2 separate regions of the Homo sapiens genome follow, and region 2 is linked to region 1. Evidence: fine-mapped expression QTL. A gene starts in region 1. The other region holds a variant in brackets. All regions are shown on one strand. Distances are from middle to middle.

What was found. PIP is the estimated chance that this variant, and not a neighbour inherited with it, causes the effect.
Region 2: its variant is fine-mapped to the expression of VPS33B-DT in esophagus muscle (GTEx, PIP above 0.99).

Annotation. Positions count from the first base shown.
Region 1 is chr15:91,020,241-91,025,616 of GRCh38, reverse strand. It overlaps VPS33B-DT (VPS33B divergent transcript), which reads right to left and starts at 2,995. Exons shown (of 4, transcript NR_110104.1): 1 at 2,877-2,995; 2 at 1,646-2,304. It overlaps VPS33B (VPS33B late endosome and lysosome associated), which reads left to right and starts at 3,023. Exons shown (of 23, transcript NM_018668.5): 1 at 3,023-3,463. The coding sequence starts at 3,368. RefSeq lists enhancers at 3,059-3,468, 3,323-3,939.
Region 2 is chr15:91,027,010-91,032,385 of GRCh38, reverse strand. VPS33B-DT (VPS33B divergent transcript) reads right to left here. Exons shown (of 4, transcript NR_110104.1): 3 at 2,145-2,505; 4 at 1,247-1,727. It also overlaps the pseudogene LOC390638. Among named protein-coding and RNA genes, the nearest start is that of VPS33B-DT, 7.1 kb to the right of the region's middle. The variant G/A (reference allele first, on the strand shown) is at 2,167.

The sequences.
Region 1 (5,376 bases):
TGGCCAACATGGCAAAACCCTGTCTCTACTAAAAATACAAAAAATTAGCTGGGCATGGTGGTGCGTGCCTGTAGTCCCAGCTACTCAGGAGGCTGAGGCAGCAGAATTGCTTGAACCCGGGAGGTGGAGGTTGTAGTGAGCCCAGATGCACCATTGCACTCCAGCCTGGGTGACAGAGCAAGACTCCATCTCAAAAAAAAAAAAAAAGTTATGGAAAAAACTTAGGAAGAAAAAGTTATGGGATAAAAAAAGTCATGGGATAAAAATAAAAATAAGGCTGGGCGCGGTGGCTCACGCCTGTAAGCCCAGCACTTTGGGAGGCTGAGGCAGGTGGATCACCTGAGGTCAGGATTCGAGACCAGCCTGGCCAACATGGAGAAACCTCATCTCTACCAAAACTACAAAAATTAGCTGGGAGTGCTGGCGCATGCCTGTAACTCCAGCTGCTCCAGAGTCTGAGGCAGGAGAATCGCATGAGCCTGGGAGGCGGAGGTTGCAGTTAGCCAAGACAGCACCACTGCCCTTCAGCCTGGGCAACAGAGTGAGATTCCGGGGGGGAAAAGAAGGAGTGTAATGTAATGCCTCACTCATCTTCTTTAAGCAGCAGTGGGAGTAAATCCCACCACTTTAGGGCAACCTCCATCTCCCACTGCAGCCAAGATTCAATCTAAGGGCGTTAGTGGGAAGAAAGGCTCAGCATAAAATACCATATGAGCTCTCAAAGTCCAGTGTGAGCATAGCGTGTTTTTTGTTTTTTGCTTAACCTTGTATTATACAGCTTTTCAAACATAGAAACGTAGGGAGAAGTTCAGCAAAGTGGCATGTGCCTGTATTCCAGCTATCTGGGGGGCTGAGGTGGGAGGATCACTTGAGCCCAGGAGCTCAAAGCTGCTGTGAGCTATGACTATACCTCTGCACTCCAACCTGGGCAACAGAGCAACACTCCATCTCTAAATAAAGACGTAGAATACTAAAATGCAATAAACCCCCATGTACCCATCAGCTTTAACAATTAACAAATGGCCAATCATTTTTTAATTTTTTTATAGACATGGGGGTCTTACTGTGTTGCCTAGGCTGGTCTTGAACTCCTGGGCTCAAGCAATCCACCTGCCTCGGTCTGGGTTCACAGGCGTGAGCCACCGTGCCTGGCCCAATCTTTTTCCTGAATGTTCCTACATCTCCCCCTGGGTTATTTTAAAGCAAATCCCAAACATATTTTAGTTTTTTTTTTTATTTTTTAAGAGACAGATCGGGCCAGGCATGGCGGCTCATGCCTACAATCCCAGCATTTTGGGAGACTGAGGCGGGAAGATCACCTGAGGTCAGGAGTTCAAGACCAGCCTGACCAACATGGAGAAACTCTGTCTCTACTAAAAATACAAAATTAGCTGGGTGCGTGGCACATGCCTGTAATCCCAGCTACTCAGGAGGCTGCAGCAGGAGAAACGCTTGAACCTGGGAGGTGGAGGTTGCAGTGAGCTGAGATCGTGCCATTGCACTCCAGCCTGAGCAACAAGAGCGAAACTCCATCTCAAAAAAAAAAGAGACAGAACATATCACTGCACTCCAGCCTGGGTGATAGATAAAGCCAGACCTTGTCTCAAAAAAAAAAAAAGAAAAGAAAAAACAAACGGTGTCTCACTCTGTTGCCCAGGCTGGGGTGCTGTAGCATGATCGTAGCGCACTGCAGCCTCAAACTCCTGGGCTCAAGTGATCCTCCTGCCTCAGCCTCCCAAGTATCGAGATTAAAGGTGCCCACCACCATGCCTGGCTATTTTTTATGTGTTGTAGTTGACCAATCTTATCTCAAACTCCTGGCCTCAAGCAACCCCCCGACCCCGACCTGGACCTCCCAAAGTGGTGGGAATTAGAGACATGAACCATTACTCCTGGCCAAATTATTTCACCTGTAAAAACTTCAGTATGTATCTCAAAGAGATAAGGACTTGTTTTTAACAGAAATACAAGCCTGTATGACATAGAAATACAAAAAATAATAATAACATAGAAATACAATACCTGGCCCAACGTTGTGGCTCACGCCTGTAATCCCAGCACTTTGGGAGGCCAAGGCAGGCGGATCACTTGAGGTCAGGAGTTCGAGATCAGCCTGGCCAACATAATGAAACCCCGTCTCTACCAAAAATACAAAAATTAGCCGGGCATGGTGGCACTCGCCTGTAATCCCAGTCTACTCGGGAGACTGAGGCAGGAGAATCTCTTGAACCTGGGGCGGCAGGGGGGTTGTGGCGCGGAGCTTGCAGTGAGCCGAGCTCCTCCACTAGGCAAAAGGGCGAGACTCTGTCAGGAAAAAAAAGAGAAGAAAAGAAATACAATACCCGAAAAGTTTTAGTAATTCCTTAAATCAGTTATCTTTGAATTATTATCCAAAAAAGATCCACACATTGAAACATTTTGTTGATACATCTCTTAAATCTCTTTTATTCTGAAGTGTTTTCCCCTCCCACATTTCCCACTTTGCCATTTTTTTGAAGACGACAGATCATTTGTCCCATATAATTTCCTACATTTTGGATATGGTTGATTTCATACCTTTGGTGTCTTAACATATTCCTGCTAATCTCTATATAGCCTATAAACTGGTAGTTAGATCTTGAGGCTTGATTAGGTTCAATTTTTGGCAATAGGTGATGCTCTGTATTTCCTATGCATCTCACCAGGAAATGATATGATGGTATGATTGATCAGAGTTGAGGTATTGTTAGCTAGCCTGATGCATTCATTATGTCTTTTTTTTTTTTTTTTTTTTTTTTTTTGAGGCAAGGTCTAGCTTTGTTGCCCAGGCTGGGGTGCAGTAGCGCGATCGCAGTTCACTGCAACCTCCGCCTCCCTGACTCGAGCGATTCTCCCACCTCAGCCTCTGGAGTGCTGCGACCCCAGGCGCCGCCACCTAATTAATAGACGCGTTGCCTCCGTTTTTCAAATGTCCCTTTCAGGACGCCGTCCCCTTCCTGGTACGCGAAGCGCTGGGAGCGAAAGGGACTTCCGGGAGATCTAGGAAGTCGCTTCTTTTTCTGGTAGAAGGCGGGGTTCTCCTCGTACGCTGCGGAGTCTCTGCGGGGTGTAGACCGGAATCCTGCTGACGGGCAGAGTGGATCAGGGAGGGAGGGTCGAGACACGGTGGCTGCAGGTCTGAGACAAGGCTGCTCCGAGGTAGTAGCTCTCTTGCCTGGAGGTGGCCATTCATTCCTGGAGTGCTGCTGAGGAGCGAGGGCCCATCTGGGGTCTCTGGAAGTCGGTGCCCAGGCCTGAAGGATAGCCCCCCTTGCGCTTCCCTGGGCTGCGGCCGGCCTTCTCAGAACGAAGGGCGTCCTTCCACCCCGCGGCGCAGGTGACCGCTGCCATGGCTTTTCCCCATCGGCCGGACGCCCCTGAGCTGCCTGACTTCTCCATGCTGAAGAGGCTGGCTCGAGACCAGCTCATCTATCTGCTGGAGCAGGTCAGTGCTTGCCTGACGCCTTTATCGCATCTACAGTTTAGCACTCATTGGATGCACATTTCTTCCTTGCCGTGCCCCTTTGATCTTGTTCTTGGCCCCTGGTATTGTCCTTGGCGCTTCCCCAGCAGGTCCAGAATGAATCCAGGGAGTAGTAAGAGCTGTTTGGAACCTGGCCAGAGAGTTAATGGAAATCACCCCCCAACCCCGCATACAGGCAAGGGAGACACCATTAGTGCCAGGCATCCCTAGGGACGGAAAGATGGTTAAGACATCTTTGCCATTAGGGATCTTACCACTCCAGTAGGAGCTGTATGAAGCACAAATTATCACACACAGGTGGTAAATGAGTGATAGAGCTAGTGTACCCGAAGAGTTCACAGTAAGTGATCATTTCTAGTTGGGGTGATGATCTAGGAGCTTCAAGGAAGTGAGTGTGAGTAATAAGCATATTTTCTTTGGAGACTAAGCATGCTCCAGGCAGATAGATTGGTAGGAGCAAAGTTGGCAAACCAGGGAAAGACAAGGCATGTAAGGGAAGACACCCATCAGCAGTTACACAGTAGCCACTGAAAAAAATTTTTTTTCCATTTGTGGCATGAGACAATACTTGATGATTCTAATAGTGATGTGTGTGGTGGCGTAAATGGGCAACAAGAAGGCCAGTTAGGAGACCGTAGATCAGACAAGAAATAAAGGCCCACACAAAATTGGTAGCAGTGGGAATGAAGGAAAGTGATGGATTTTTAAGTTATGGTGAAAGAAAACTCAAAGACTTACTGATTGGTTATAAATGTTGAAGGAGAAGCAAAAATGAGTGAGATTTTTAACCTGGGTTATTAGGAAAATAATACTGCCACTGTGATTTTAATGGATTACTTGTGTAATCATTTAGTTATTCATTTTATGTCTGTATTCCTCATTAGACTGGAAGGTGGGCAGGGATCATGTTTGTTTTGTTCAACACTACCTAGTGAGTACCTAGCTTAGAGTCAAGCACACACCATGTGCTTAATAAATATTTGTTGTATTAACATTGAATAGAAATGAGAAAAATAATTAGAAAAAGGAACAGGTTTGATGGGGGAAGTTGATTTGTTTGGGTTTGGATGGGGGAAGTTAAGATGCCCGTAAGAAATATAGCTTGTAACATCCAGCAGATAGAAATGTAGAACTGCAGCTGCATTGTGAGGACTGGAAGGAAGATGGATCAAGATGAGAACTGCAGGGCATCTTAGACCAGATTTTATTTCTATTTTATTTTATTTATTTTTTTGAGACACAGTCTCACTCCGTTGCCCAGGCTGGAGTGCAGTGGCGCGATCTTGGCTAACTGCAACCTCCACCTCCCGGGTTCAGGCGATTCTTCTGCCTCAGCCTCCCCAGTAGTTGGGATTACAGGCGCACGCTAGCCCACCTGGCTAATGTTTGTATTTTTAGTAGAGATAGGGTTTCACCATGTTGGCCAGGCTGGTCTCAAACTCCTGACCTCAGGTAATCTGCCCGTCCCAGCCTCCCAAAGTGCTGGGATTATAGGCTTGAGCTACCACTCCCGGCTTCTTTCTCTTTAATACTTAGTGCTTGCACAGTGACATGCACATAAAAGACTTGCAACAATGTCTGAAGAATTTAAAAGAGGTGCTAGTTAAAGCCACTAGTTCAGGTGAGATCAAGTAGAGGAGACCAAGAAGAGAAACTTGAGCCCACTGGGTGATTCAGCATGGCCAAAGTGGATTTCCAGGCAATAACGTCCTCTCCTAACTAACTTCTGACTTAATTTTTGTTAATGTGCACTGCTATTCAGCTTGAAATATCAGAATCATCTTTGCCTCTCCTTCACCCTGATACTTAACTGAACCAGTTGCTGAGTTCCATGGATACTTCTTTACACATAACTTTTTTATGGTGATTATAAA
Region 2 (5,376 bases), 6.8 kb before region 1:
CTCCCACTGCCCCACCTTTGCTGCCTCCCTCTGTGGTCCCTCCCAGACCCCCTTTTGCTCTTTGTTTCCTGCCCTCTGATTTCTCTGGACCCTCGTGCCTTCCCTGGGAGCCAGTGATCAGACATCATTTCACCTGTGACCCACAGGTGCACCCTCTGAGGCCCCAAAGGAAGACCTCCTCTCCCCCTCCCTGCCGCGTTTGTCCTGTGTATCCCCCTACAAGAATGCATATGTCTTGCCTGCAGGTGGCCTTTTTAAACTCAGCTTTAGTCAGTGCCGAGGAGGAGCAGCAGGCACAGCTACATGGGCAGCTGAAGGAGCAAAGGGTGTGTTGCCAGCACCTGGCTCACCCAGTGGCCTTGGCCCAGAAGGAGCCAGAGGCGGCAGCCCCAACCCCAAGGACCGGGGGCGATTCCGCGTGTGGGGAGACCCACCGGGCTTTCTCCATGTTGGCCAGGCTGGTCTTGAACTCCTGACCTCAAGTGATCTGCCCTCTTCGGCCTCCCAAAGTGCTGGGATTACAGGCCTAAATCACCACACCCAGTCCAATGAAGACTTTTTTACAATTTGCAGTTCAGGCTGTGGAAAATTTGAGCTACAAATTAGCAAGAGTTTACTCTTCACATGAATGTTGTCAGATTCATCTTTTAATAATTGGTGTTTATATTTTCATTTAATGTCATCCACTTTTCTACAGGGTATGGACAGTGGATTTGCAGGTGGAGAAGACAAAATTTATAATGTTTACGATCAAGCCTGGAGAGGTGGTAAATAAAGATATGGCCCAGAGTATTTATAGGTCTGGTAAAAACCTGGACAAGGATATGTATGGTCATGACCTAGAAGCCAGAAGAAAGACCAACAGGTATCAAGCCATACAACTCTGTTTCAGTGTTTACACCAGTGAAAATAAAGTAGTTCATAGTCTTTTCTCTTGTTCCCTAGATTTGTTCCCAACAAGGAGTTTTTCAGACCATAGACAGAGAAGCCGAGAGGCTGAGAAGGACCAGTTCAGTTTGAGGAAGATTCTTTTGATTTGGACACATTTTTGGAAGAAGCCAGACAGCATGGTGGCCCTCAAAGACCCTCAGCAGCTGCCCCAGAGAACATGAGCATGAAGGCAAGAAGAGGAGGAAGGAGCAGACACACGTCTCTTCAAAGCAAATGAACTGTGATCATCCATAACCCTAATGATGCAAGTGCTGTGGCACGACACTTTGTGAATGGTCAGGATACAAACCAAATCTGGATTCTACTTTTTATTATTGGAGAAGGCAAGGGTGGGGAGGGGGCGGGGATAGAAAATTTTACTTTGAATTATTTAGTTTTTTTAAAGAGTGGGTTGTATTTGTGCTTCTCCCACCTTTCAGCATTTGTAGAACATGCTGGCCCACATACACAATCAAGACCACTTCCTTCTGTGTGACACTAGCAGTTCGGGTTAATATTTTGTGTAAGAACAGCTGCTTATGAGTCAAGTCACCCCAACGGCAGTGAGGAGGAGGATGTTCACATATTGGTACTGTCCTGCCAAATAAATGTGGCCCCTGTTGCGCTGTGTTTTAATTCGGAGTGGGGAAAAGAAGCTCTTGCTTTGTTTCAAATGAAAACCTTTAGACAAAATTCTCGGTTATGTTTCCTTTATGTAATAGGCTGGGAGAGTCTCAAAAATCTTCCTCTTCACCAGATGTTTGCAAAACTTTAGGCCTTTGAGCTTGAACCTGGAGCTGGAAAAAAATAAGCACTGTAAGGAAGGAAAGGCAATGTCTGCAAAAACATTCGATCTGAAAATCGCCTTTTTATGAGGGAGTCAGTGAAAAGAACTCAGGCAGTTTTTATGTGCACCTTGTTCTTTTATTTGTTTTCTCCTCAAACTCCCTTTACCATCTTTGTTGTTCCTATGACTCCCTCACCCTCCATTAAAAATTGTAAATTGGGCAAGTCACAGTGGCTCAGTCCTATAACCCCAGCACTGTGGGAGGCTGAGGCAAGAGGACAGCTTGAGGCTAGGAGTTCAAAACTAACCTGCAGCATAGAAAGGCCCAGTCTCAACGAAAACAAATAAATTAAAAAATAAAATATAAATCAATCTGGCCCAAGATCGCATAATAAGCAGGAAAGGCAAGATTTCAGCCCCAGCTTACCTGACTTGAGAAGTGCGCTGCT[G/A]TGTGCACTGTGTTCTGTATATCTTGCTAACAATTACAGGTCTTCTTGTACTTCTCCTTTAAAACTGGGAACTCTTCCACCCCAGCATTCTAACAAGCATGAAGGCAGCTTCAGTTACAAATCTCTCAAAGTCCCCATCGTTCCACATTTATGATCTATTTAATTGATACATAATCAGATAGTAGCTGCATGTATATCATAGATGTATCTGGTATACAAACAGATTGACTTGACTCCATCTAGAATATGATTTTCCTGTTGTAGTGCATTCTGAAGTTCTTCTGAAGAAAACTGAACCCAACCCGAACCTCTGTGAAAGCCAGTCTCCTTGTCCTAGAACTTCAAAATATGGGAAAAGATTAATCATGAACTTGAGAAAGTTTCCATGAGCTCCAAATCAAACTGCCAAATTTTTCATCGGCCACAATCGGGTTGATTATTTATTGTTTGAGACAGCGTCTCGCTCTGTGACCCAGGCTGGACTGCAGTGGTGTGAACATGACTCACTGCAGCCTCAACTTCCTGGGTTCAAGGGATCCTCCCACCTCAGCCTCTTCAGTAGCTGGGATCATAGGTGCGCACCACCATGCCTGGCTGATGTTTTGTATTTTTTGCAGAGATGGTGTCTTGCCATGTTGCCCAGGCTGGTTTCAAACTGCTGGGCTTGAGCAATCCTCCCACCTGGGCCTCCCAAAGTGCTGGAATTACAGGTATAAGCCACTGTGCCCAGCCTCAAATCAGATTCCAGACATTTAGAAATGTCAGCAACCTTGCTTCATACCCTTCCTCGTTACCCAAGGCTAAATCCCTATGTTCATGAACTTACTCTGTTTTCCTCACTGCCATAGAAAAGATATGGGTAATGAGTTTCTGTGTCATTCTAGATGCAAACCATATTAACAGTAATAGCCAAGGGAGATTTTGATCAGAACTCTTGTTTCTAACCTCATTTCTAGAAACTAGAAAATTAGGCCTCAAAACCTAGGCGCACCTATGATCATTTCTGAGCCCAGTCACCCTCAACACCAGCACTACCATCATCACATGTTCCTAATGATAAACAAGAAACGACAACATTTAGCCCTTACTTAACCTCGTTACAGACTTCTGGTTAATTTAAACAATTTTTTACTTTCCCTTTGTGCAAACGGAAGACTTCTTTGCTTTTCTGAGATGGAGTCTCGCTCTGTTGCCAGGATGGAGTGCAGTGGCGCGATCTTGGCTCACTGCAACCTCCAACTCCCTGATTCAAGCTATTCTCCTGCCTCAGCCTCCTGAGTAACTGGGATTACAGGCATGCACCACCATGCCCAGTTAATTTTTGTATTTTTAGTAGAGACGGGGGTTTCACAATGTTGGCCAGGCTGGTCTCGAACTCTTGGCCTCAAGTGATCTACCTGCCTTGGCCTCCCAGAGTGCTAGGATTACAGGTGTGAGCCATCGCTCCCAGCCTTCATTACCACAGCCCTTACAGTGCCGCAAAGAAAAAAACAGTTTCAGTGAGGTATGTGTAAACTCTGTGTACTCACATCCCACCCTAGAAAGCCCACAAAAAAATACAGCCCAGGATAAATGTATAGACTGACTTCTAAACCCTCACAAGAAAGCTAAGGAAATGTAATTAATGTAAAAATAATGTTTCATTAGTTATCAATCTAAAAAAGGTACTCAATGAAGATAAAACTGAAAATATTCTCTGCTGATTATTAGACATCTATTAGAGATCATTAGCATACTATAGTAGGCAGAATTCTAAAGTGGGTCCCGTGATCTCCACACATTCCCCATGTTACACCTTATACACTCCCCTCGTTTTGAGTGTAGGCAAGACCTGACTTGTTTCTTGTTGTTGTTGTTGTTGAGATGGAATCTCACTTTGTCACCCAGGCTGGAGTGCAGTGGCGCGATCTCAGTTCACTGCAGCCTCCACCTCCCGGGTTCAAGTGATTATCCTGCCTCAGCCTCCCTAGTAGCTGGGATTACAGTTGGTGGGATTAGCCACCACGCCTGGCTAATTTTTTTTGTACATGTTTAGTAGAGATGGGGTTTCACCATGTTGGCCAGGCTAGTCTCAAACGGTTGACCTCAAGTGATCTGTCTGCCTCGGCCTCCCAAAGTGCTGGGATGGGAGACCTGACTTGTTTCTAACCAAAAGAATATAGCAAAAGTGATGGGATGTCACTCCTGTGTTATGTTCTATATAAGATACCATCTTAGCAGACTGGAGAAGCCCTTGCTGGCTTTAAAGAAGCAAGCTGCCATGTTGTAAGACAGTCTACAGATAAGCCAGGCAACAAGGAGCTTCAGGCAGTCCCTAGGTGAGAGCAGCTCCCAACTCAGAGCCAAAGGTCATCAAGGAAACAGACTTCAGTCCTACAGTTAAAGATGAATTCTGCCAAACACGCTGAAGGAGCTTGGAAGTCAGTCTTTTTCCCCAGTTGGCCCTTTGATGAGACACACTACAGCCCCAGCTGACACCTGGATTATAGTGCTGTGAAACCCTAAGAAGAGGACCCAGCTCAACTGTGCCCAGCTGTGAGATATGTGTTATTTTCAGCCATTATGCTTGCGGTATTTTGTTATACAACAATAAAAAAGCTAACACAAATACCTATAAAACTTTTTTATTTTTTAATAAGTATCACTCAAAATGTTATCAATAGACTTTAGACCACACACAGTAGCTCACGCCTGTAATCCCAGCACGTTGGGAGGCCAAAGCTGGAAGATTGCTTGAAGCCAGCAGTTCAAGACCAGCCTTGGCAACATGGCAAGACCCCCCCCATCTCTATAAAAATAGGCCAGGCACAGTGGCTCACAGTTGTAATGCCAGCAGTTTGGGAGGCCAAGGTGGGTGGATCACTTGAGTCCAGGAGTCTGAGACCAGCCTGGGCAACACAGTGAGACCCTGTCTCTATAAAAATAGGCCAGGCATGGGCCAGGTGCAGTGGCTAGTGCCTGTAATCCCAGCACTTTGGGAGGCCGAGGTGGGCGGATCACGAGGTCAGGAGATCGAGACCATCCTGGCTAACATGGTGAAACCCCGTCTCTATTAAAAAATATAAAAAATTAGCCAGGCACGGTGGCGGGCACCTGTAGTCCCAGCTACTGGGGAGGCTGAGGCAGGAGAATGGCATGAACCCAGGAGGCCGAGCTTGCAGTGAGCCGAGATAGCGCCACTGCAGTCTGGCCTGGGCAAAAGAGTGAGAC